Homo sapiens: one gene and its partners. The protein of the gene in region 5 purifies or fractionates together with the protein of the main gene of each other region. This does not show direct contact. Each region holds a gene or a part of one and is shown on either strand. Other genes may lie near its edges. The genes, in order: FZD6, S1PR5, LMBR1, COX18, VNN2, ATP2A1 and GPAA1.

Evidence for each region.
Region 1: the proteins of VNN2 (region 5) and FZD6 purify together in Homo sapiens (affinity purification with mass spectrometry; 2 studies listed by BioGRID and IntAct, with this or other methods). This does not show direct contact.
Region 2: the proteins of VNN2 (region 5) and S1PR5 purify together in Homo sapiens (affinity purification with mass spectrometry; 2 studies listed by BioGRID and IntAct, with this or other methods). This does not show direct contact.
Region 3: the proteins of VNN2 (region 5) and LMBR1 purify together in Homo sapiens (affinity purification with mass spectrometry; 2 studies listed by BioGRID and IntAct, with this or other methods). This does not show direct contact.
Region 4: the proteins of VNN2 (region 5) and COX18 purify together in Homo sapiens (affinity purification with mass spectrometry; 2 studies listed by BioGRID and IntAct, with this or other methods). This does not show direct contact.
Region 6: the proteins of VNN2 (region 5) and ATP2A1 purify together in Homo sapiens (affinity purification with mass spectrometry; 2 studies listed by BioGRID and IntAct, with this or other methods). This does not show direct contact.
Region 7: the proteins of VNN2 (region 5) and GPAA1 purify together in Homo sapiens (affinity purification with mass spectrometry; 2 studies listed by BioGRID and IntAct, with this or other methods). This does not show direct contact.

What each region holds. Positions count from the first base shown.
Region 1 is NC_000008.11:103,319,398-103,322,897, forward strand, and holds part of FZD6 (frizzled-6 isoform a precursor), read left to right. Parts: intron 1-3,500. UniProt on the Homo sapiens protein: Receptor for Wnt proteins.
Region 2 is NC_000019.10:10,514,648-10,518,828, reverse strand, and holds the start of S1PR5 (sphingosine 1-phosphate receptor 5), read left to right. Parts: upstream 1-1,381; 5' UTR 1,382-1,431; intron 1,432-3,799; 5' UTR 3,800-3,817; coding exon 3,818-4,181. UniProt on the Homo sapiens protein: Receptor for the lysosphingolipid sphingosine 1-phosphate (S1P). S1P is a bioactive lysophospholipid that elicits diverse physiological effect on most types of cells and tissues. Is coupled to both the G(i/0)alpha and G(12) subclass of heteromeric G-proteins.
Region 3 is NC_000007.14:156,890,384-156,894,548, reverse strand, and holds the start of LMBR1 (limb region 1 protein homolog), read left to right. Parts: upstream 1-1,365; 5' UTR 1,366-1,545; coding exon of another isoform or gene 1,546-1,555; coding exon 1,556-1,621; intron 1,622-4,165. UniProt on the Homo sapiens protein: Putative membrane receptor.
Region 4 is NC_000004.12:73,063,217-73,066,716, reverse strand, and holds part of COX18 (cytochrome c oxidase assembly protein COX18, mitochondrial), read left to right. Parts: intron 1-1,303; coding exon 1,304-1,467; intron 1,468-1,814; coding exon 1,815-1,939; intron 1,940-3,500. UniProt on the Homo sapiens protein: Mitochondrial membrane insertase required for the translocation of the C-terminus of cytochrome c oxidase subunit II (MT-CO2/COX2) across the mitochondrial inner membrane.
Region 5 is NC_000006.12:132,743,370-132,745,637, reverse strand, and holds the end of VNN2 (pantetheine hydrolase VNN2 isoform 1 precursor), read left to right. Parts: exon of another isoform or gene 1-206; intron 207-1,146; coding exon 1,147-1,338; 3' UTR 1,339-1,768; downstream 1,769-2,268. UniProt on the Homo sapiens protein: Amidohydrolase that hydrolyzes specifically one of the carboamide linkages in D-pantetheine thus recycling pantothenic acid (vitamin B5) and releasing cysteamine. Involved in the thymus homing of bone marrow cells.
Region 6 is NC_000016.10:28,884,988-28,888,487, forward strand, and holds part of ATP2A1 (sarcoplasmic/endoplasmic reticulum calcium ATPase 1), read left to right. Parts: intron 1-2,201; coding exon 2,202-2,287; intron 2,288-2,437; coding exon 2,438-2,735; intron 2,736-3,500. UniProt on the Homo sapiens protein: Key regulator of striated muscle performance by acting as the major Ca(2+) ATPase responsible for the reuptake of cytosolic Ca(2+) into the sarcoplasmic reticulum.
Region 7 is NC_000008.11:144,081,161-144,085,433, forward strand, and holds the start of GPAA1 (GPI-anchor transamidase component GPAA1), read left to right. Parts: upstream 1-1,473; 5' UTR 1,474-1,570; coding exon 1,571-1,644; intron 1,645-1,963; coding exon 1,964-2,143; intron 2,144-2,228; coding exon 2,229-2,340; intron 2,341-2,553; coding exon 2,554-2,701; intron 2,702-2,778; coding exon 2,779-2,880; intron 2,881-2,973; coding exon 2,974-3,170; intron 3,171-3,252; coding exon 3,253-3,449; intron 3,450-3,561; coding exon 3,562-3,715; intron 3,716-3,882; coding exon 3,883-3,978; intron 3,979-4,128; coding exon 4,129-4,273. UniProt on the Homo sapiens protein: Component of the glycosylphosphatidylinositol-anchor (GPI-anchor) transamidase (GPI-T) complex that catalyzes the formation of the linkage between a proprotein and a GPI-anchor and participates in GPI anchored protein biosynthesis. Binds GPI-anchor.

The DNA of each region.
Region 1 (3,500 bases), on a different chromosome or scaffold from region 5:
ATTTTTATGCTGAAAGCAGTGAGGTCTTTAATATTTTAAGACAGGAATGGGTAGCACAATCCTGTGAGCTTCTGTGTAGAGCATGGCACCTGTGTCAGTCTCCTGAGGGTTGGGCAGCACTCTGGCAGTTTCTGTTAGGAATCCAGGACACTTCCATCCTCCAACTCTGTCAGCCAGGTGGATGGGAGAGAGAAGGTAGAGAACTCACGCCTTTTCTTGAGTGCCTCAGATGGGAAGTGTTATACCTTTTCCACATGCATTCCTGTTGGCAAGATGTCAGTCATGTGGTTATAACTGAAACAAATAGGGAAAATAGTAAATGTGTGTCCTGAAGGAAAAAAGCATTCAAGGCAGAGGACATGTCAGGTGCTGCCAGTCAAAAAGAACATTACCTTATGCTATTTCACTAGAGTGACTGGGGCAAAGGACAGATCACAGTAGGTGAAGGAGTGAAGAGGAAGTAAAGCCAGAAACAGAGTTCTTAGGGAAGCTGGCTATAAAAGAGGAAAGTTTATGAGTTTAATGGGAAAGAACTATTTTAAGAACTACTAGGAAAAAGGAAGAGGCAAGCATATATGGGGTAGAAGAGGTCATCAATAGTAGTTTTCTAAGAAGGAGATAGGATCCCAAGCATAGATGACATTTTGGCCATGGATGGGAGGAACATCTGTTGTAACAGTAGGAAAGGATAGGATGGCTGTGGATATAGTAGGTTTGTGTGTTTGGTAAGAGTTGTTGCAATAATTTCTTTCTGATGGTTTCTATTTCCATTGTGACATAGTAAGAGTCAAGGAGGTCCTCTGTTGTGAGTCTGGGAAAGAAGGATATGTGTTCGAGAGAAGTGGTCATCATGGAGCATGGGAGAATGAGTCAATTAGAGAGGCTTCGTAACATTTTAGGTAAATCAGGCGATCCTGAATGTGTGGATCTCATCTGGCCTGTTGAGAACTTCTCCAGCTGTGGTGGGATGCTTGGGGCTAAGCACAGAGAAGGCAGATAGTTGTGCTCATCTGTGGTTGGGGTTTTGTCAGATGGATTCAGTGCAAAGATAAAGGTGCACTAAAAAATGAAGGATAATGAGAAGGGTGTTACTGAAACAATAGCCTATGAAAGTCTAAATAGATGGGGAGCGAAATGAAGAGAGAAATGAACTAATGTATGGAGACAAGCTGGAGGAGATCTATCCCAATGAGGTTTTTTTTTTAAAGGCATAATGAGGATTTTTTAAAAAATGAATTGCAAGGATAGGAGCTTGCAGACGAAGGGCAGGATGCTTGAGTTGATTTTTGGAGATAGTGTGTACTTGCAGGTTGTGGCAGGGTTCCTTGTGTGACTTTGATTACAGGTGGCCACTGCGGGTTAGGGATAGTCATTGGAGATGAGGAGGCTAAAGAGCCGAGAAGCCAGAGTGTGGATAGCTTATTCTTGGTCAAGTCACCAAGGATGATGACAGCAAAAGGAAAGGAGACAAAACTGATGATTCATTCAACTCATATTTCTTGTACTCTTACTGTGTGCCAGGACTGTTCTAGGCACTAGAGTTACAACAGGCAAAAATTCCTGCCATCATGGACCTTACATTTTAGTGGAGGGAAGGAGAAGATTCAGTAAATAAGTTATATTTATATGAGAAGACGGTGAGGCCTGTGGAGAAAATACTTGCTCTTTCATTATGAGATTGCCTACTCAGTTTCAAAGCAGGGGAGGTTATAACTTAAAAAAATTTACACTGGCACCTATGCTTAATTTCTAACTCTGTTGGAGTTTTGGTCTTCGTAACTTGATTTTTGGAGAAACGGAATTAATCTAAATCAAATTTATTCGTGTTTGAGAATGCTTGATACATTGAATTGGGAAGTAGAATTCATTTTTTAAAATTATTTAAGCCCTATATTAAACCATGTCCCATTAATATAAAGCAAACCCATTAACATCCTTTTATACAATGTTAGTTGGGTCAGCTGCACATAAAAATAATTCTAGTATGGCCTATACTGGAGAATATTTTTTCATTTCTATAAATAAGACCTTCAGGCTTTTGTGGCATCTTATTTACTTTGAAAACACACACAAAGAAAGAGGGGAACCTCTGATTAAAACACAAAATCTAGCTCATTGAAAGATTTCTAGCATAATGAAAGATTTAACATAACTGTGGTAAAAACATGAAGGCTGCATCTATTATTTGAGAAACGGCAGAACTGTGTGGTTATGGCATGCATTAGGCTCTTGGTTCCCCAGGAGAATGCCTTTGCCTTGGAAGAAAAAGGTGCATTCATTCTTTGAGGTCTGTAGTTTCCTCAGCTCATCAGAGCACAGGCACATTCTTTTCTACGTGAAGAGTTTTGTAAACTGAACTTTGTTTTCAGTTCCGGCTCCAGCCATCCTCGGGTAGCTTGCCAATAGATGAATCCCACTCGTTTGACCCATGACGCTCCTTCTTTTCATTTCTCCCTCTTTCCCCACAGCAGTGCATGTCCACCATACCACCTGAGAGTCTGTGGAATCTAATTTTCTGTTATACTTCTTTCCTTACACTCATTTTCCTGTCTTTATTATGATAGTCTAACTTTTTCTCCTCAAAGGTATAGCTGCCTTGCTTTCATGAAAACACACTTTCCTATTGTGATTTATCAGAGGCCTTTCCATATCTCAGCCACTATGCTATGACAGATTTTATAATTAATAAGTGCATTTCAAAGTGAAAACGTTACAAACATGCTTAACAGATGTTTTTATAACATGAAATATTCTACTGCGTTAAGATCAAAATGCTGACTATACTTGTTCCGTATACCTTCAGACCACTGTTAATGTAATATTTTGGCAAGGTGAATGGTCTTTTTTGGATATAAAAATCTCAGCATAAGCCAGGCATGGTGGTACACAGCTGTATTCTCAGCTATTTAAGAGGATTGCTTGAGTCCAGGAAATCAAGACCAGCCTGGGTAACATAGTGACACCCAGTCTCCATTAAAAAAAAAAAAAAAAAAGAATCTCAGGCATATACAGGCATATATTTAAAAGAAATATTCTATCTGGACCTTTCCGTGATAGTGAATAAACTTGATGAATACTGACTGACTTGATCATTTGCAATTAGAGTTCATGTGGAGAAAGTAAGATTTTAAGCACAATTAACTTATGAATGAATGTATCCATTCACTGACCTTTTCCACATTAGTCTTGATTAATTTTTTTTTCCTATTCTCTAGACAGTGGAGGCTGCTAATTTATTCTACTGATACAGTGAGACCTCATATAATAAATTGGGGAAAGAAACTGGTTAGCTTTTTGTTTTATTTTTAGGCTGAAGAAACTATAGAACCTATGTGGAACTTACACACTTCTGGTAGATACATAATCATTTTCAAGAACAATTGAGTAACATATAGTAAAATGGCAGATGCTTAACCCTGCATCCTAGGAAATCCCCTCCCATAGAAACTCTTACACAGAGAGTCGTGCACAAGAATATTGATTGTAGATTATTCCTAATT
Region 2 (4,181 bases), on a different chromosome or scaffold from region 5:
GAGTGCCCCCTGAGTTTCCTCCCACGAGGGTATCCCGGATCCACACTTATTCTCAGCCTCTGGCTCATCTCTCCTGGGGCGCCCTCACCCCACCCGCGGCCAGCAGGGCCTGAAGCATCAGGGGCAAAGGGCACGGTCCTGGAGAAGGTCGCAGCAGCGGGACCCAGCCTCCCTTCCTGAATCTGAGGGTGGAAGAGCTGGGACCGTCTGGAAGTTCCTGGGAAGTCGGGGTGGGGGCGTTTCGGGGCCAGCGGGACTGGTCGTTGGAGGAGCAGTGGCCTGGGAGAGGCGTGGGAGAGCATCACAGACAGCAACAAAGAGACACGCAGAGGCAAAGAGACACGCAGAGACAAAGAGACACGCAGGCGAGAGACTCTGAGATCCTCCTGAGAGAGATACAGAGGAAGTGAGGGAGACACTCATTCATTATCTGGGCATGGTTGCAAGCGACTGGAGTCCCAGCAGCTACGTTCAGCCGGCTGAGATGGGAGGATGGCTTGAGCCGCGGAGGTCGAGACTGCAGTGACTTATGATGTTGCCACTGCACTCCACTCTGGGCCACAGAGCAAGATCTTGTCTCAAAAAAAAAAAAAAAAAAGAAATTCTTACATTGCTGGGGTTTACTGTCTGCTAAGGACACAGCCCAGAAACACCATTAATGAGTAAATCACTTTGTCGTCAGCGATAAGGGTGGGAGAGAATCGGTCGGGGGAACACGGAATCCAGGGGGTGGGACAGGAGAGACCCTCCTTATCTGAGGAGCGGCAAGTTCCCATCACAATCCTGCCCGGGCCCGCCCCACCCCCACTCGCCCTGAGCCGGGGGCGGGAGCGGGAAATTGGGAGGGGCCTGTGCCCGGGAGCAGCGGGAACCTATCTGCTGGTGGGAGAGGACTCAGGCTAAGGTGGCCCCCACTGAAGACTCCTGCTAAGCAACCCACTGAAGACCCCTCCGAATCATCGACGGGGCGTCCTTGGGGTGCAGCCCAGGAAGCTCAGTTCACAGGTGGGTGGGCAATGGGAGGGCGCAGTGCCCGGACACCCAGGACAGAGGAGACCCCTCCGCTGGGGAGAAGAGGCTCAGGCTGCGACCGCCCTGCTGCAGAACCCTCCCTTTCCCGCCTCTCCGAGTCCTCCCACCGCGATGGAGCGTCCCTGGGAGGACAGCCCAGGCCCGGAGGGGGCAGCTGAGGGCTCGCCTGTGCCAGTCGCCGCCGGGGCGCGCTCCGGTGCCGCGGCGAGTGGCACAGGCTGGCAGCCATGGGCTGAGTGCCCGGGACCCAAGGGGAGGGGGCAACTGCTGGCGACCGCCGGCCCTTTGCGTCGCTGGCCCGCCCCCTCGCCTGCCAGCTCCAGCCCCGCCCCCGGAGCGGCGTCCGCTCACTCGGTTCAAGGCAGCGCGACTGCGGGTGGCGCACGACCAGGGCGCAGAGTGAGTGGACTGCACTGGACCTTTGGGGGCGCTGGGCTGGGCCTGACCCGGAGGGGGTCGCCCTGGCGGCCACTTTCCCGGTCTAAAAAGGCGCACCACTCCTTGCAGGGAGTTCTCCGAACTTTTCCTGGAGGCCTCTGGGGAGGGGGAAGCTGGGGGCTCCCCAGCTGGGTGCAGGACCTGGGATACGGGGTGAAGGTGGCTGGAATCCCCTGGCCACCCCCTCCTGGCCGGGCCACTGCAAGTTTCCATACTTCAGTCCTGCTGCCGGGCAAGCTGGGCGGATGGGGTTGGCCTCCCCCTCAGAGCATGTGTAACCCTGTCTCCCTGTATTTGGGCTCCCCACCTCCAGCATGGGTGAGCCAGCGACTTCCTGTCTATGTTTGCCTGCCTTGATTCTCTGTGTGTGACTGAAGCTCTCTGGGATGTCCGCATCCCTGCCTTGTGCAAAAGAGATCCATTCCCCTCCCCAGGCCTTGGCTTTCTCATCTGGACTTGCATGGGGACTATTTGTGCATGGATGTTTGTGTGGGAGCATGGAAACCTTTGCGCCTGCTTCGATACGAAGCATTTCTTTTGAGCTTCAGTTTTCTCATCTGTAAATTAGGACTAAAGGAAGTGGGGATTAATAAGGTCACAGAGGCAGGTGAGGAGTGTTATTACAGTTTAATGACATGTGTGCCCCTCTGTAAGAGTCTGTTTGCCTCTTGTGGATTCTCTCTCCTGTCCTCAGGCTCTGCCTTAGTAAAATGAGTGAATAGGATCAACTTTTTTTTTTTTTTTTTTTTTTGAGACGGAGTTTCTCTCTTGTCACCCAGGCTGGAGAGCAGGGGTGCGATCATGGCTCACTGCAGCCTCGGCCTCCCAGGCTCAAGTGATCCTCCCGCCTCAGTCTCTTGAGTAGCTGGGACTATAGGGGCATAACACCACACCTGGCTAATTTTTAAATTTTTTTGTAGAGATGAAGTCTTAGTATGTTGCCCAAGCTGGTGTCGAACTCCTGGGCTCAAGTGATACTCCCACCTCGGCCTCCCAAAGTGCTGGGATTACAGGCGAAAGCCACTGTGCCTGGCCAAGGAGCAACTTTCTCATGGGGTTTTGGGTGGATGAGGGGGTTTTGGCAGGAAAAAGCTTTGTATGCAGTGAGACAAGAGTGTGGAGTGTGGTGCACTGGGCCCCAGGCTAGTGTGAGTGGAGGTTGTGAAATTGTGGCCTGTGCCACTGGGTGGGAGACCCTGTATTCGTGTGACTGAATTTTGGTCGCTGTGTTTTTCTGCCTGCGTCACTCTGTTCCTGTATGATGTATTTTTTAGTTTCCCTGATAGTGTGTGACTGTGTGTTTTGCCCTTGTAGTGTGTCGCTGTATTTGTGTGTCTCTTTCTGTGTGTGTTGCGTTTGTGTGCGTTCTGTGTGTTTACTGTTACGTCTCTGGAACTCCCTGCTTGTGTGTTTGTGTGTGTGTGTTTGAGACAAAGTCTTGCTCTGTTGTCCTGGCTGGAGTACAGTGGCACAATCAATGCTCACTGACTGCAGCCTTGACCCCGCGGGCTCAAGTGATCCTCTCACCTCAGCTGGGACTCCACTGAGTAGCTTGGACTATAGGCATACACCAACACGTCCCGGCTAATTTTTGTAGAAACGGGGTTCTCCTATGTTGTCCAGGCTAATCTCGAACTCCTGGGCCTCAAACAATCCTCCCGCCTCAGCCTCCCAAAGTGCTGGAATTACAGGAGTGAGCCACCACACCCAGCCGTGTGTGTGTTTGGTGGGGAGGGGGGGTGTTTTGAGACAGAGTCTCGCTCTGCCACCTAGGTTGGAGTGCAGTGATGCGATCTCGGCTCACTGCAACCTCCGCCTCCTGGGTTCAAATGATTCTTCTGCCTCAGCCTCTGGAGTAGCTGGGACTACAGGCACGTGCCACCATGCCTGGCTAATTTTTTGTGTTTTTAGCAGAGACGGAGGGGTTCACCGTGTTAGCCAGGATGGTCTCGATCTCCTGACCTCGTGATCTGCCCCCCTTGGCCTCCCAGGCCTGAGCCACTGCCTCAGGCCTGAGCCTGGGGGGATTACAGGCGGGGATTACAGGCCTGAGCCACCGCGCCCAGCCATGTGTGAACCACCGCGCCCAGCCATTCATGTGTTATTAATGTCCCTTTTTTTGGGACTATGTCACCTTGTTCCCTCGTGATATTATTTGTGTGTATGTCTGTCTCCACGGACTCTATCCCTCCATCCTGAACTCCCCCTTGGACACCATGTATAGGGGGTGATGGTCAGTGGGTAGGGCCCCTTTCCCACGACTTAGCCGGCTGCTGCGAGCGTGCTTACGGGGACCGCGGCCTGACACCGTATCTTGCCTCTCCAACAGCCTTGGGGCGCGCGGCCCATGGAGTCGGGGCTGCTGCGGCCGGCGCCGGTGAGCGAGGTCATCGTCCTGCATTACAACTACACCGGCAAGCTCCGCGGTGCGCGCTACCAGCCGGGTGCCGGCCTGCGCGCCGACGCCGTGGTGTGCCTGGCGGTGTGCGCCTTCATCGTGCTAGAGAATCTAGCCGTGTTGTTGGTGCTCGGACGCCACCCGCGCTTCCACGCTCCCATGTTCCTGCTCCTGGGCAGCCTCACGTTGTCGGATCTGCTGGCAGGCGCCGCCTACGCCGCCAACATCCTACTGTCGGGGCCGCTCACGCTGAAACTGTCCCCCGCGCTCTGGTTCGCACGGGAGGGAGGCGTCTTCGTGGCACTCACTGCGT
Region 3 (4,165 bases), on a different chromosome or scaffold from region 5:
TTTGAGTTGTGAAAAAATTTTCTCTACTCAAAATTGTGAAGAGAAACGGCAAGGTTTAAATTACCACATATTTGTCTTTGAAGAACTTTACAACAACTTCATTGACTGTTAAATTTAGATTCATAAAAATCTAAACAACGGCCGGGCGCGGTGGCTCAGGCCTGTAATCCCAGCACTTTGGGAGGACGAGGTGGGCGGATCACCTGAGGTCAGGAGTTCAAGAACAGCTTGGCCAACGTGGTGAAACCCCGTCTCTACTAAAAATACAAAAATTAGCTGGGCGTGGTGGCGGGCGCCTGTAATCCCAGCTACTCGGGAGGCTGAGGCAGGAGAATCACTTGAACCCAAGAGGCAGAGGTTGTTGTGAGCAGAGATCGCCATTGCACTCCAGCCTGGGCGACAAGAGTGAAACTCTGTCTCAAAAAAAAAAAAAACAAAAACAAAAACTAAATGACATTTGAAAGCAATTTGTAGATTTTCACACTTCCTAAGAATTCTCAAAGATGCCAAAAACAAAAATCGCAGCCACTAGCAATTTAAATGACTTCCTCGTAGCCAAATAAATCCTAAGGTAAAATTATAAACATTCCCTTAAATTCAAATTTTATAACAAAAAGAAAGATAATAGGGAACGGAGGGTGAATTATTGTGTTTGATATATTTGGCGGTGAAAAATACATATATTACGTGCTGTTTAGGGTCCACTGAGAGTCATAAAACTGACCCTAGTGACCGAGCTACCGGAAGGACTTGGCAAGGGTCTAGCGAGCTCGGTTATCTGCGTTTTCCAGGTGGGGCAGCCCAAGACCCTTCTCAGACCCAGAGAAGCTGGGTTTCCGCCCAAAGCCCGGCCCCAAACCACCGATTTCCGACCTTTCAACCTACTTTGGCAGAGCAAGAGTTTCCGCGGGAGACTCCCTGCTTCCCTCTGCCCAGGTCCCCTGAGGCCGAGTGCGGTACTGAGTGCTGAGTAAGGGGTGCCGAGTGCCAAGCACTGAGTAACTGGGGGAGGGGAACCATGCAGCTGTCATAAATAATTAGCTCCTGTGAGGAACAGGAACTCCGAGACTGCGGCCGGGCCAGGTGGGCAGAGGTCGCAGCGCCCTCGCCGCGTTCCCCGTCCCCATCCGACGCCAGGACAGCGCCTCCTTAACTGGGGTAGCCCCTGAGAGCGTGGGCGGAGCCCCGCCCCGCGACCTCAAGGCCCCGCCCCCTCAGCGCCTCCCGGCCCAGCAGCTCGGAAGACCGCGAGGCGCGCTTTTCTGACGCATCGGCGCCTTTCGTCTGACGTATGCCTGCACCGCCCCCTCCCCTCCCTGCCCCGCCCCCGCCCCGCCCCCGACTGCGCGGCGCCCGCCCTCCCTTAGTCAGAGCTGCTCGTCTGAGGCTGCTGAGGCGACGGCCGGTGTCGTGGTCGCGGTACCTGTTCCAACACGGCTCGCGGGCCCGTGCCGGCTCCGGTCCCCGGCGCGGCTGTCCGAGCCCCTGCGGCGGGCGGACGATGGTGTGGCGGAGCACGCGGACGCGGGCGGCGCGGCGGCGGGCATGAAGGAGGATGGAAGGGCAGGACGAGGTGTCGGCGCGGGAGCAGCACTTCCACAGCCAAGTGCGGGAGTCCACGGTGCGTGGGGACCGAGGCAGCCCTGACAGTCCCGCGTGCCCGCCCGGGCCCTCCGTCCCCGCCCCCGGGCCCCCGGTCCCCGGACCCCTCACCTCCGGGCCTCGCCTCGCGCCTCCCGCCCCGGCCTCTGCCGCTCTCCCTCCCCACCCCTCCTCTCCCCTCCCCTCCCCTTCCCTCCCCACCTCTCCTCTCCCCTCCCCTCCCCTTCGCTTCCTCTGCCTGCCCCCCCGCTCCGCTCTTGCCTCCCCTGCCCCCTCGCGCTCCCTCCGTTCGAGCCCCGACCCCGCCCCCGCCCCGCGGCCTCGGTGCTGCCCTTCCCTTCCCGCGGGGAGGGCTGCGGTGCGCGCCGCGCTCTGGGACCCCAGGGGCTTCCTCTCTGGGCGGGTGTGCGGCTCGCGCCTCGGGGTGTGGACGGCGGCCCCGCCAGTGCGCGCCCCCGCGCTCCGCCGCCAGGCCAGGTAGGCAGGTGGATGCGCAGGCGTCCCGGAGAGCCTGGGTGGGCCCGGCGGGTCCGGGAAGGGCCGGGCTGCGCGGAGCCCGCCCGCCTCTCGCGTTTGGACCCGGCCGGTTACCTTGTCCCGGTCAACACCTCCTGCCCTCCTGGCGCCTCACGTTTCCATCCCTCTTTCATCTCCCCCAGCCCCCACGTGGGTTGAGTTCGAAACCTTACCGTTTGGGATGAGAATATTGGTTATTTTTGGGAGTGAGGACCTCAGCAAAAGTCCATTTTGCTATGGAAGCAACTTCTTAGGGAAGCAGCTTCTTTTTTGGCCCATGTTCCATGTGTGCTGTTGGCAGGAGTCAGGAAGCGGACTTGACCTTGGAAAGTCTACTTTGATGTTTTTATCTTTTCATGATGCTCTAGAATGTATTGTAATTGGGTTTATCTGTGTTTTCATAACTGTTGTAAAATATGTCAATTTTTTATGTTTATATTTACGCCTCTCCTAAGTTGTCTACGATTCAGTCACACTTGGTTTGAGGTGAAAAAATTCTGCTTTAGAATTATCTAATTTGTGTACTCACTGATCTTGAAAATTGAGAATCACTTTGGAAGTCATACTTTGAATAAAGAGGACATATAAAGTCTGAGCTGGTGGAATTTGAGTTAGTGGAATTTGGTACACATTTAGTTGTAATTTTTATAATTGAAGCTAAAATACACAGAGATAAGTTCATGTAATCATACATGTACCCTTCAGATCATTTCATACTAAACACGCCTGTGTACTCCTGAATCCACCAGGAGTTTGAGACTGGTCAGCCTGGGCAACATAGTGAATCCCCATCTCTACCATTATAAAAAAATAAATAAATAAACACAATTTTACTAGGATCCCAGAGACTGATTCCTTTCCCTCTTCCAATTACTTTCTCCTCCACCAAGGGTAAACGTTGCCCTGGCTTCTAATATCATAGATTAGTTTTTGCTTAGTTTTGAACTTTATGTAAATGGAATCTTACCGTATATACTCTTCTGTGTCCAGTTTCTTGTACAATGTTTGTGAAATTTCTCCATGTTGTATGTGGTTATAATTCATTCTCGGTGCAGTAGTTGTGTGACTATAGCACAATTTATTTTTCATTTTACTGTTGATGGGCACTTCAGTAGTTTCTAGGTTTTGGCTATGAATATATATATGTGTATATATATGTGTATGTATATATGTGTGTGTGTGTGTGTGTGTGTGTGTATATATATATATATATATATATTTTTTTTTTTTTTTTTTTTTTGTGATGGAGTCTCGCTCTGTCTCCCAGGCTGGAGTGCAGTGGCACAATCTCGGCTCACTGCAACCTCTGCCTCCGGGATTCAAGTGATTCTCCTACCTCAGCCTCCTGAATAGCTGGGATTACAGGCACACACCACCACACCCAGCTAATTTTTCTATTTTTATTAGAGACGGGGTTTCTCCATGCTGGCCAGGCTGGCCTTGAACTCCTGACCTCAGGTGATCCACCTGCCTTGGCCTCCCAAAGTGCTGGGATTACAGGCATGAGCCACCACGCCGGGCTGGCTATGAACTTTTTGTACATAGCTTTTGGTGGACATGTTTGTGCATTTCTGTTGGGGATAGCCCTAGGAATGGAATCCCTAGGTTAAAGAGTGTGCATTTGTTCATCTTTAGTAGATACTTTAAAACAATTTTCCAAAGTGGTTGTACCAGTGTACACTTCCGCCAGTACTGACAGTCTCAGAGGTGTGGTTGTTACTCATCTTTATCAATACTTGATATTTTCTGTCCTTTTTAATTTTAGTCATTCTAGCAAGTGTGTTATAGTGTTCATCATACAAATAATTTTAATTTGCATTTTCCTGATAACTAATGAATTTGAGCACCTGTTTGTTTATTAGCCATTTGGAAATCTTGTGAAGGGTCAAATTTTTTTCCCCATTTAAAAATTAAGTTTATCTTTTTAATATTGATTTGCAAGGTCTTTACAGAATAACTTGTATTATATTGTTATACAGGTGGATATGATTTCTTTGTCAGAAATATATACTGCACATATTTCTTTCCCACTCTGTGGATGCCTTTC
Region 4 (3,500 bases), on a different chromosome or scaffold from region 5:
GCCAAAAGAACCAGATTAATAGCTGCTTGCCTGGGTTATCAACGCAGCCTAGATAAGACTTGTGGCACCTTGCTTAAGCAGTACTGGCAGGATGGTTGTGCAGATACAGCCTTACAGATGTTTCTTTCTAGGAGGAAACATCTGAGGGCTTCTGGCATTTTCTTTTCTTTTCTTTTCTTTTTTGTTTTTTTGAACAAGACAGAATCTCCCTGTGTTGTGCAGGCTGATCTCAAACTCCTGGCCTCAAGCAATCCTCCCACTTTGGCCTCCCAAGTAGCTGGAATTACAAGTGCAAGCCACAGTGTTGGCCAGCTTCCTGCATTTTCAATAGTATTGAGTCTTGAAGGGTAAAAGACGGTGTGTCAGATGGACAGCCAGGAAAGTGGGCTTTCCACACAGATGATATAATACAGTACTTCCAAAGGCATGCCTATGCGGAAGTCTGATTTGTTGGATGAACTAAAGTCATTCAGACCAGAATATGCAGGTGTCTAGAGGAGTAACGAGATAAAATTGGAAGAATAGGCAAATGTGAAATTATGGAGGACCTAGAATGTCTTTGTGTACTGTCTTATTATACACTATAATTTGACTAAATTCAGAAAAACTATTGAATGCCTCCTCTGTACAAAATATATGATACAGGAGATTTAAAGATGAATAAAATAGAACACTGTCCCCTAAACTAAGAATACTTTAGTTTTTGTTTTTTAACTCCTATTCTCTTGGACCTGAAGGAAGACTGTATTCTAAAAAGTAAAATTTCAGGAAAAAACAGTAGTAACTAATATGGTTAACAGAGAAACAGATTAAAAATATCTTTGTGAGATAGTTGATTGAAAAATGGAGACTATTTTGACAGGCCAAGAGCATACACAGTATAAAACCACATAGCTCCAAAAGGTATATTCAGGGATGAAGTGGTTAAGTTTGGCGGGAGTGGAGAGATTTGATTAAAGTTTGCTTTTAGCTTCCATATTTCCAATATTAATTGTAGTTATACCATGTCAGTAGTGAAATTTACCTTTAAAGCCTAATCAGCCAAAGACCACCAGAGACAAAGCCTGTAGTCTGACAATTTCAGATTGTTATGTAACTTGTGTACCATACTGTAGAAGTTTTGATAAAAGGCTTTATTTGCCTGTTGTTTAGGCAACTCCTTAACATGCCTGTGACAGCTGAAACCCTTATACAAATCCTTTAGCTAATAACTACAGCAGGCGCTATTTGTGCTATGGAAATAAAGCACGATTCTTAGATGACATTTTCTCTTTCCCCTTTTTTCCCCCTAACCTCAATCTAGGCTCACTTATCTAAAGAATATGAGGAGGCTAATTTCAGAGCTATATGTGCGAGATAACTGCCACCCTTTCAAAGCCACTGTGTTGGTTTGGATTCAGCTTCCAATGTGGATCTTCATGTCTTTTGCTCTCCGGAATTTAAGCACGGGGGCAGCACATTCAGAAGGTAATTATTGTATGTCTTCTCCCAAAGAAGTTCTCTAACATTGTCTTTGTACTAAAAAAAAAAAAAAAAAAAAAAAAGCATACTTTTCATAATTACGATATGTTTACTATCTTCCTTATAAGGGTATAGAATTTAAAGTCTTAAGTGTAAACAGATTGGTTGTGTTGTGAACATTTTGTATTGAGAAAAAATATATATATTGTGCGTGAAAAACTGGAATAAATCCAGTGCAGATCTTTCCTGTGAGGGACACCTTATTGGAATTGTCAGACTACTTATTTATGTCTTATATATTTTTCTCTGCTATTTTTAGGACTTCTATTGTTTTATTTATAAAACTGTTTTAGCAGGTTTTTCTGTTCAGGAACAGTTAGCTACTGGTGGAATTCTGTGGTTTCCTGACCTCACTGCACCCGACTCCACTTGGATTCTGCCTATCTCTGTTGGCGTCATCAATTTGTTAATAGTGGAGGTCAGTAGTTTTAAATGAAATTTGTTTGCCATTTATGGGGATTTTTGTTGCTGCTGTTTTGACTTCAAATCTGTTTTTGTTTGAGTTGGTGAAGATAGCTCTGAGTTAGAAGTGAGATCCCTTGGTTCCTGGTTCCACGTCAGGCATTGGCTTAGGCCTGTCCCTTAACCTCTCTGGGCCTCAGAACTCTCGAAATTAAAGTAAAAGCACTAGTATACTTCCAAGTCTCTTTCAGCTTCAAAATTATATGATTCTGATACATAGAATTTTGTGACTTGCTTTTGGCAAAAACAGTAATAAAGATGCCCAGTCAATCTGGTTGTATTCTTAAAATAGAGTGATGTTCCGTGTGTGTGTTTAATATGTGAATTTGTAGGCGGAGAACACAAGTCAGGCCCTGACTGCTATTTTCTTGCTTTATGACCTTAGAAAAGTCATTGAATGTCTTTATAAGATGAAATGGGAAAAACATACACATAGAAAATGTGACCTCTCAGTCATGTCTTTTTTTTTCTTTTTTTTTTGAGATGGAGTTTTGCTCTTGTTGCCCAGGCCGGAGTGTAATGGCGCAGTCTTGGCTCACTGCAACCTCTGCCTCCTGAGTAGCTGGGATTATAGGCGCACACCACCACACCCGGCTAATTTTTGTATTTTTAGTAGAGACAGGGTTTCACCATGTTTGCCAGGCTGGTCTCGAACTCCTGACCTCAGGTGATCCACCCGCCTTGGCCTTCCAAAGTGCTGGGATTACAGGCATGAGCCACTGTGCCCAGCCCTCTCAGTCATGTCTTAACCCTTATCACAGGCTGCTTTACTCAGCAGTTTAGGGAAAGCGTGCATATAATTTCATAAATTGTTCTCAGACTCTGAGTAGAACAGACTGGACTGGAAGAAATCTTAAAAATGATTTACCTCAGTAGAGATCTCCCAGACCTCATGACCTCTGATGCCTGTTTGTGAAATCTAATATACCCCTTATTCTTTCAGATGAGGAAAATGGAGATGATAGAATATAAGGTCTTAAGTGAAAGTTTCTTGAGGAAAGACTCTACCTGTAGTCCAAATATGTTTCCCTAAGAGCACTAGCACAGTCCCCTGTGGTTGGTGTTCAGTGAATATTTGGTAGAAAGAAGGAAGTGATAAGCACAAGGTTACAGTGAATCAATGTCAATCCCCTAGTCTTTTCCTCTATGTCATCTAAAGACTAATAAAGGTGTTTTCATAGCGGGGCATGGTGGCGTGCGCCTCTAGTTCCAGCTACTTGGAAGCTGAGTCAGGAGGATTGTTTGAGCCCAAGAGATGGAGGCTGCAGTGAGTTGTGATCCCACCACTGTACTCTAGCCTGGGCGACAGAGAGAAAGACCTCACCTCTAAAAGAAAAATAAAAGCTTATTAAAAGCTTATTCTTACTCAACATACACTATGTGCAAGGCATTGTGTTTTTTGTTTGTTTGTTTGTTTGTTTTTTTCTTGAGACAGAGTCTCACTCTGTTTCCTAGGCTGGAGTGCAGTGGTGTGATCTCCACTCACTGCAACCTCCACCTCCCAGGTTCAGGTGATT
Region 5 (2,268 bases):
GTAACTTTAAACAATTCCTTCTCTGAGGTAGAAAACAAAAAGCCCTGACTTATGGAATTTGCCAGTTTTCATTGTGTCAATATTCCCGCCATGATCCCACCAGCTTCAAGAATGGATCTGTTGGCAGAGTTTGATAGCTCACGCCTGTAATCCCAGCACTTTGGGAGGCTGAGTTGGGAGGACCATTTGAGGCCAGGAGTTCGAGAACAGCCTGGGCAACATGGTGAAGCCCTGTCTCTACTAAAAATACAAAAATTAGCTGGGCTTGGTGGCACGCCCCTGTAATCCCAGCTACTGGGGAGCTTGAGGCAGGAGAATCACTTGAACCCAGCAGGCGGAGGTTGCAGTGAGCCAAGATCATGCCACTGCACTCCAGCCTGGGTGACAGAGCGAGACTCCATCTCAAAAAAGGGGGAAAAAAAGAATGGCTGTGTTTAACAGCCAGCTGTCCAATTTCCTGGAAATTTAACAATCTGTTCTCATGAGCCTGTGCACCACTAGCTCCAGCACACCACTGGTTTTAACCAATCTAGAATGAGAACTCACATTGCCTTGATCTGTCACACACACTTCTGTCTCAGAATGAGCCTTTGCTGGTTCAATGTCCACTTCCCACAATGTCTTCCACCATACAGCCCTTGAAAGAAATTCCTAACAGCTTGAGTTTTTGGCAGCTTGTGTCCCACTCCGTGAAACAGACCAGTTCAGTTTTTTTTTTCTCAGACCTCCTAGCACTTACCTGTTCTCTTCTCTGATACACTGATAAACTGATTTCTCTCTTTATGTTTAGAATCCGCTCCATTTCACCATTAGCTCTTTAGCTTCTTGAGGGAAGGATGTGATGTATAACTCTCTGGTTCCTGATTGTCTTGCACATAATCGAACTCAATGAATTGCTGCTGCTGATTTTGACTTTCCATTAATGGTTACATTTGATTGTTGAAACTAAAATCTTGGGCCCTCTTGAATTGCTCTAGTCTTCATTATGTAGTAAATGGCTGTCCCCTGCCTGGCCTACTTGCTGCATCCTCCTAAATCAGAAATGATTTGACTATACATTATATCTAGGATGGTTTCAAAATGATTAATTTGCTTTTAACTTCTATGTTAAGAAAGCTGACTGTACTTTTCCCACCTTTTCTTTAGGTGCTGAAAGATGGGCGTTTGGTAAACAAGAATGGATCATCTGGGCCTATACTAACAGTGTCACTCTTTGGGAGGTGGTACACAAAGGACTCACTTTACAGCTCATGTGGGACCAGCAATTCAGCAATAACTTACCTGCTAATATTCATATTATTAATGATCATAGCTTTGCAAAATATTGTAATGTTATAGGGCGTCTCTTTATCACTCAGCTTCTGCATCATATGCTTGGCTGAATGTGTTTATCGGCTTCCCAAGTTTACTAAGAAACTTTGAAGGGCTATTTCAGTAGTATAGACCAGTGAGTCCTAAATATTTTTTCTCATCAATAATTATTTTTTAAGTATTATGATAATGTTGTCCATTTTTTTGGCTACTCTGAAATGTTGCAGTGTGGAACAATGGAAAGAGCCTGGGTGTTTGGGTCAGATAAATGAAGATCAAACTCCAGCTCCAGCCTCATTTGCTTGAGACTTTGTGTGTATGGGGGACTTGTATGTATGGGAGTGAGGAGTTTCAGGGCCATTGCAAACATAGCTGTGCCCTTGAAGAGAATAGTAATGATGGGAATTTAGAGGTTTATGACTGAATTCCCTTTGACATTAAAGACTATTTGAATTCACCTAGTTTTCTGTGCTAATGTTTATCAGGAGATTTACTTTCCAATCAAAAGGCAATGTCGACATTTATTTCTACAGTGAACGTAGTTTTGAGTGCTAGAAGAATTGATGGCTATTCCAAGTTCATATCAAAGGAGACCTGACCCAGGGCACTCATAGCCCCAGCTGTCCCACCTTAAGGCTATGGCGTAATTTAACAGGCAGAAATCTCATAACACAAAGACCATGACAGTTAAAAGTTACACTATTTTCAGCATTTGGTTGACTTTTTACAAAATACACATATTCCATGCTACTTGAAGTAAACTAGTATATTTGTTATTGATCATTTAATTCAGATACTCTTAAAATTAAAGAACTGATTTTGAATTTTCAGATTTATTTTCTGATTTTTATCTCCCAAAGTATTTTTAAATTCAATACTTTTACATAAAAAAACACAATTGAAGCATTTATCTTTTGTTTTTACATATTGTCATAAACCTACTTATGGATTTGATTT
Region 6 (3,500 bases), on a different chromosome or scaffold from region 5:
CAGCACTTTGGGAGGCCGAGGTGGGTGGATCACCTGAGGTCAGGAGTTAGAGACCAGCCTGGCCAACATGGTGAAACCCCATCTCTACCAAAAAATACAAAAAACACAAAAATTAGCCAGGCGTGGTGGCAGGCACCTGTAGTCCCAGCTACTCAGGAGGCTGATACAGTAGAACTGCATGAACCCAGGAGGCTGAGGCTGCAGTGAGCCAAGATCATGTCACTGCACTCCAGCATGGGCAACAAGAGCAAGACCCCATCTCAAAAAAAAAAAAAAAAGACAAAACAAAACAAAACCCAGCACTGGGGCCTCCCCCTGGCTCGCTAGTAGTGGCTGTGGCAGTGGCAGCACTGCTTGACATTTTCTTTTTTTTTTGAGATGGAGTCTTGCTCTGTCACCCAGGCTGGAATGCAGTGGCGCGATTTCAGCTCACTGCAACCTCTGCCTCCTGGCTTCAAGCAATTCCCTGCTTCAGCCTCCAGAGTAGCTGGGATTACAGACGTCCACCATCACACCCGGCTAATTTTTGTATTTTTAGTAGAGACAGGGTTTTACCGTCTTGGCCAGGCTGGTCTTGAACTCCTGACCTCGTGATCCACCCACCTCAGCCTCCCAAAGTGCTGGGATTACAGGTGTGAGCCACCCACTGCACCTGACCTGCTTGACGTTTCCATTCTGTCCCAAGCCTGAAACGGGACGGGTAGTGGGAGAAGGCTGGATGTTGTTGCCTACTCTCTAGATAGCCACCAGCCCACCCCTTCCACATGGACATAGGGCCACAGACACCTCGAGAACTGTCCTGTCTCCTTCAGCCTCCTCAAAAATCCTCCAGGGAGGAGCCATGAGATTCTAGGACAAGATAGGGGGTTCAGATACACTGAAAACCATGGCTGCTAGGCTGGGCGTGGTGGCTCATACCTGTAATCCCAGTGCTTTGGGAGGCTGAGGCAGGAGAATTACTTGAGGTCAGGAGTTTCAGACCAGCCTCGGCAACACAGCGAGACCCCATCTCTATAAAAAAAAAATTTTTTTAACTAGCTGGGTGTGGTGGTGTGCACCTGTAGTCCCAGCTACTTGGGAGGCTGAGGTGGGAGGATTGCCTAAGCCCAGAAGCTTGAGGCCACAGTGAGCTATGATTACCACGGCAGTCCAGCATGGACAACAGAGCAAGACCCCATCTCTATAAAATTTTTTTAAAAATTAGCTGGGCATTGTACTGCACACCTGTAGTCCCAGTTGTTTGGGAGGCTGAGGTGGGAGGATCACTTGAACCCAAGAGTTTGAGGCTGCAATGAGCTATGATCACACCACTGCGTTCCAGCCTGGGCAACAGAGCAAGACCCTGTCTCTGTAAAACCACCATAGCTGCTTCTGTTTCCGCACTGGCAGGGAGAAGCGAAGAAGAGGCAGAAAACATTCCCCATGGTCCCAGGGGGCAAGGGCTAGGCTGGCCCAGGCTTGCTGCTGAGCCCCTGCTCTTAGGGTGAGGGAGGCATGGTCGTAAGTGTAGGTCCCCCTTCCTCCCAGAAACATGCTTGACAGTTAAAAGTGTGGCTCCAAATATGTCCACTTATTTGATTTTCACCCAAGACATTGTTTTGCAGTGTACATGTCCTTGTCCCCATTTTACAGAGGAGCACATGGAAGTTAGGTGATCAAACACAGCTTGTTAGTGGTCAAGCTGGGGCTTGGGTCGAGGTCTTTTTAAGAGCCGTGGACTTCTGGCTGGGCACGGTGGCCTGTAATCCCAGCACTTTGGGAGGCTGAGGTGGGCGGATCACTTGAGGTCAGGAGTTCGAGACCAGCCTGGCCAACATGGTGAGACCCCGTCTCTACTAAAAATACAAAAAAAAAAAAAAAATTAGCCAGGTGTGACAGCATGTGCCTGTAATCCCAGCTACTTGGGAGGCTGAGGCAGGAGTATTGCCTGAACCCGGGAGGTTGCAGTGAGCTGAGATCTTGACACTGCACTCTAGCCTGGGTGACAAGACTGCAACTCTGTCTCAAAAAAAAAAAAAAAAAAAGGAGCAATGGACTTCCTAGCTGCCTTCAGTGGCTTCTTCCAGAGTCCAGACATCCCCCAGGATGGCTACTTGGTCCTTACCAGGAGCTGTCCTGCTGAGCAGGGAGAGAGTTAGGCACGGGAAGCCTGGGAGAAGGACATGATGTCATCCGAAAACCCCTTGGCCCCTTCTCCACAGGCGAGTCTGTATCTGTCATCAAACACACGGAGCCCGTTCCTGACCCCCGAGCTGTCAACCAGGACAAGAAGAACATGCTTTTCTCGGTGAGCAATCCGGGACCAGCCATCACACACTCAGTCAAGCCAGGTGCCCGGGTTGGAGAGAAACATGGCGTGTGAGAAGAGATGGCGTGGGGAGATGCGGCATGAGGGTCACCTCTTGCCTGATTCCCTGCCTCCTCTTTCCCTTCCCAGGGCACCAACATTGCAGCCGGCAAGGCCTTGGGCATCGTGGCCACCACTGGTGTGGGCACCGAGATTGGGAAGATCCGAGACCAAATGGCTGCCACAGAACAGGACAAGACCCCCTTGCAGCAGAAGCTGGATGAGTTTGGGGAGCAGCTCTCCAAGGTCATCTCCCTCATCTGTGTGGCTGTCTGGCTTATCAACATTGGCCACTTCAACGACCCCGTCCATGGGGGCTCCTGGTTCCGCGGGGCCATCTACTACTTTAAGATTGCCGTGGCCTTGGCTGTGGCTGCCATCCCCGAAGGTATGAAAGCCTTTCTTTTCTCCTCCCATTTGCTAATCCCATCTGCAAAGACCCCTTTTCTTTTCTTTTCTTTTCTTTTTTTCTTTTTTGTTTTTTGAGATGGAGTCTTGCTCTGTCACCCAGGCTGGAGTGCAGTGGCGTGATCTCGGCTCACTGCAAGCTCCGCCTCGCGGGTTCACGCCATTCTCCTGCCTCAGCCTCCCTAGCAGCTGGGACTACAGGTGCACGCCGCCATGCCTGGCTAATTTTTTTATATTTTTAGTAGATACGGGGTTTCACCGTGTTAGCCAGGATGGTCTCGATCTCCTGACCTCCTGATCTGCCCGCCTTGGCCTCCCAAAGTGCTGGGATTACAGGCGTGAGCCACCGCACCCGGCCTTGCTCAGTGCAACCTCTGCCTCCTGGGTTCAAGTGATTCTTCTGCCTCTGCCTCCCAAGTAGCTGGGATTACAGGTGCACGCCACCATGCCTGGCTAATTTTTGTGTTTTCAGTAGAGATGGGGTTTCACCATGTTGGCCAGGCTGGTCTCGAACTCCTGGGCTCAAGCAATCCACCCGCCTCGGCCTCCCAAAGTGCTGGGGTTACAGGTGTGAGCCACCACGCCTGGCCCAAAGACCCCTTTTCCAAGTAAGGTAACATTTACAGGCTCCAGGGATTAGGATCTGGTATCTTTGCGGACCATTATTGTTTGTTTGTTTAATAGAGACAGAGTCTCACTCTTGTTGCCCAGGCTGGAGTGTGGTAGCACAATCATAACTCACTGT
Region 7 (4,273 bases), on a different chromosome or scaffold from region 5:
GGATTGCTTCAGGTCAGGAGTTTGAGACCAGCCTGGCCAACATGGCGAAACCCCGTCTCTACTAAAAATACAAAATTAGCTGGGAGTGGTGGCACATGCCTGTAATCCAAGCTACTCAGGAGGCTGAGACAGGAGAATCTCTTGAACCTGGGAGGCGGAGGTTGCAGTGAGCCGAGATTGTGCCACTGCACTCCAGCCTGGGCGACAGAGCAAGACTCCATCTAAAAAAAAATAAAAGTACAAAAATTACCTGTTCTCATGGATCACTTGAGGTCAGGAGTTCGAGACCAGCCTGGCCAATGTGGTAAAACCCCATCTCTATTAAAGACACAAAAATTAGTGTGGTGGCAGGCACCTGTAATCCCAGCTACTAGGGAGGCTGGGGCAGGAGAATCACTTGAACCAGGAGTTGAAGGTTGCAGTGAGCCAAGATTACACCACTGCACTCCAGCCTGGGTGACAGAGCAAGACTCTGTCTCAAAAAAAAAACAAAAAAAAACTTGTTCTCACATGGAGTCTTCAGCTTTGACCCTTCTCTCTGCCCACCACTATTTTGTTTGTTGAGACATGGTCTTGCTCTGTGCTCAGGCTGGAGTGCAGTGGTGTGATCACGGCTCACTGCAGTCTGGATCTCCCAGGCTCAAGTGATCCTCCCACTTTAGCCTCCTGAGCTGAGACTACAGGCATGCCCCACTCACCTGGCTAATTTAAAAGGAATTTTTTTGTGTGTACAGACTGGGTCTCATTTCGTTGTCCAGGCTGATCTCAAAGGATCCACCCACCTCACCTTCCCAAAGTGCACCCTCTTGAGCAAACTCCCCCTTCATTCACCTCTGGCCCACCGAGCCCCGACTACCAGTCCCTGCAGTCTGGACCCTGGGACTGCTTCTCCCCTAATATTCCACGGATCTCCTGGCCCGGACAGTGACAGTATGATCCCCCACTTTATAATGCACACACCCCAGCTCCAGTGAAGCCCGTTTTGGCCAGTAGTGCCATCAGCATCTTCTCTGCAGTCATCTGACTCTGAAAACCTCGGTGCTGGGCTCACGCTGTGACTCCACTGGGACGTCCTGAGTCATTGGCAGTCTCGCTTGGCATCCATTCTCTGACCGCCGCCGGCTTTCCACCCACCTGCCCGGCTCATCACCTCTGACTCCTGCGGGCCTTCCAGCCGGCGCTATCTCGCAGCCCCCGACCAGCTCGGCCTGCTGTCGGGCATCTCTGCTGTCCTCCGGCTGTAGGGCTACCTGCCTCCCTCCCGGGGGGTGCACTGCGAGTCCGACTCTAGTGGGGGCAGCGCCTAGCGGACTCCCAAACCCGCTCAGGTCCTGCCGGCCTCACCGGCACCGCCCACCCTCCAGCCGGCCGCGGCTCTGCGCTTGCGCGCCGGCAGCACACAGTGTTAGGGGCGCGCCCTCTGCTCTGGACATGCGCGCCGTCGCGAGCGTCTCTGGGACCGGAAGTGCGGGCGAGCGCGGGTCCCCGGGTCTGACAGGAGCAGCCTGTGGGCACCGCGGCGGTAGTTGGAGGCGGGAGAGGGTCCGTAGCCGCGCCGCCCTGCCCCGCCATGGGCCTCCTGTCGGACCCGGTTCGCCGGCGCGCGCTCGCCCGCCTAGTGCTGCGCCTCAACGCGCCGTTGTGGTGAGGACAGGGCCCGGGGAGGCGGGGACCCGAGGGCCCTGGGCTCGCGCCGGCGGCCCCATGCGCGGTCCCCATCGAGGGCCGGGGCCGCTCCAGCTGCTCGCGCCCCTCCGGCTGCTCGCGCCCTTCCGCTCCTGCCCTCTGGAAGCACTGAGGGTATCAGGCCCAGGCTTAGGGCTCGGGTCCGGCGTCCCGATGCAGGACTCCGGGTTTAGGTCTCCCAGACCCGCGCGATCGACCCCGGGTGCGGAGGTTGTGGCCTCGGGTCGGCGTCTGAGGACCCGCTGACGCTCCGGTGCCCCTCCGTCCTCTCTCACAGCGTGCTGAGCTACGTGGCGGGCATCGCCTGGTTCTTGGCGCTGGTTTTCCCGCCGCTGACCCAGCGCACTTACATGTCGGAGAACGCCATGGGCTCCACCATGGTGGAGGAGCAGTTTGCGGGCGGAGACCGTGCCCGGGCTTTTGCCCGGGACTTCGCCGCCCACCGCAAGAAGTCGGGGTGAGCGGCAGAGCAGGGCGTATGGGGCGAGCAGTGGTGGCTAAGGCCGGGGAGCTCTGCTCAGAGGCTCCCTTCGTGTCTGCAGGGCTCTGCCAGTGGCCTGGCTTGAACGGACGATGCGGTCAGTAGGGCTGGAGGTCTACACGCAGAGTTTCTCCCGGAAACTGCCCTTCCCAGATGAGACCCACGAGCGCTATGTACTGGGGGAGTGGGGTGTGCCTGGGCCCAGAAAGCACCTTGGAGGGAGGGGTCTGGGCTGGGTATCACCTTGCGGGGGTGTCATGGGGCCAGGAAGCTCAGTGGGAGGGAAATCCCTGGTGGGCACTGGAGGGCTAGGAAAGTTGTGGGGGGCCCTTCAGCCCCCTACCACAAAGTTACACTGAGGCTCCCCCCACCGATGCTGCATACAGATGGTGTCGGGCACCAACGTGTACGGCATCCTGCGGGCCCCGCGTGCTGCCAGCACCGAGTCGCTTGTGCTCACCGTGCCCTGTGGCTCTGACTCTACCAACAGCCAGGCTGTGGGGCTGCTGCTGGCACTGGCTGCCCACTTCCGGGGTGAGTCTCAGGGCTGCTGGCCGTGGAGGGGTTTGGTCAGTGCCCCAGACCCTGCTGATCCTGCTTCTGGCCTCCAGGGCAGATTTATTGGGCCAAAGATATCGTCTTCCTGGTAACAGAACATGACCTTCTGGGCACTGAGGCTTGGCTTGAAGCCTACCACGATGTCAATGTCACTGGTAGGTTCTCTTGTCCTGCCTGCCCTGGTCCCCCTCTCAGGGTCACTGTCCTCACCACGTCCTCCATTAGCACTCATTCACTTGCTCCTACAGGCATGCAGTCGTCTCCCCTGCAGGGCCGAGCTGGGGCCATTCAGGCAGCCGTGGCCCTGGAGCTGAGCAGTGATGTGGTCACCAGCCTCGATGTGGCCGTGGAGGGGCTTAACGGGCAGCTGCCCAACCTTGACCTGCTCAATCTCTTCCAGACCTTCTGCCAGAAAGGGGGCCTGTTGTGCACGCTTCAGGGCAAGGTGGGGCTGCCTGCCTGCCTGAGGGCTGAAGGGCACAGGGTCTGTGGGAGGGGCTGTCTCATCCTGTCCTGCACCTCTAAAGCTGCAGCCCGAGGACTGGACATCATTGGATGGACCGCTGCAGGGCCTGCAGACACTGCTGCTCATGGTTCTGCGGCAGGCCTCCGGCCGCCCCCACGGCTCCCATGGCCTCTTCCTGCGCTACCGTGTGGAGGCCCTAACCCTGCGTGGCATCAATAGCTTCCGCCAGTACAAGTATGACCTGGTGGCAGTGGGCAAGTAAGTAGTCTCTGGTCCCCCCTTTCCATGCCCAGGATGGGGTCTAGCTGGAGCGGAGTGGGGGATGGCCTGGTGGCTCTGGCCAGCCGTGAACCTGCCCCACACCTGACAGGGCTTTGGAGGGCATGTTCCGCAAGCTCAACCACCTCCTGGAGCGCCTGCACCAGTCCTTCTTCCTCTACTTGCTCCCCGGCCTCTCCCGCTTCGTCTCCATCGGCCTCTACATGCCCGCTGTCGGCTTCTTGCTCCTGGTCCTTGGTCTCAAGATATCCTCTGCCCCTTGCCATCTACCTGTGACCAGCCTCCAGTCTCCTCAACTCTAGGCTGGGGAGAGTCTTCCATCCTGATGGGGGGTGGGGTACGGGGGTGAGCCCTGGGTCCCCCTCTGGGCAGATCCCGTTACACCTCTTGTTGGGGTCCTTGATTGGGCTACGCTCTGGAACTGTGGATGCAGCTGCATGAGGCTGGAATGGGCCTTGAGGAGCCCGGGGGTGCCCCTGGCCCCAGTGTACCCCTTCCCCCATCACAGGTGATGGCACCCCCTTCTGTTGTTGGAATGGGCTTCTGGGGTCTGACTGGTGTTTAGTGTTGCAACTTAGCCTCAGCTGGTGGGATGGTGGTGGTCTTTGGGGATCCCCTGGCCCCAGGGTCCATCTCCAAGAGCCTGTGTGCCCTGCAGGGTGTGGGGCTGGCCTCGCTCGTGGCACCTCTGCTGATCTCACAGGCCATGGGACTGGCCCTCTATGTCCTGCCAGTGCTGGGCCAACACGTTGCCACCCAGCACTTCCCAGTGGCAGAGGCTGAGGCTGTGGTGCTGACACTGC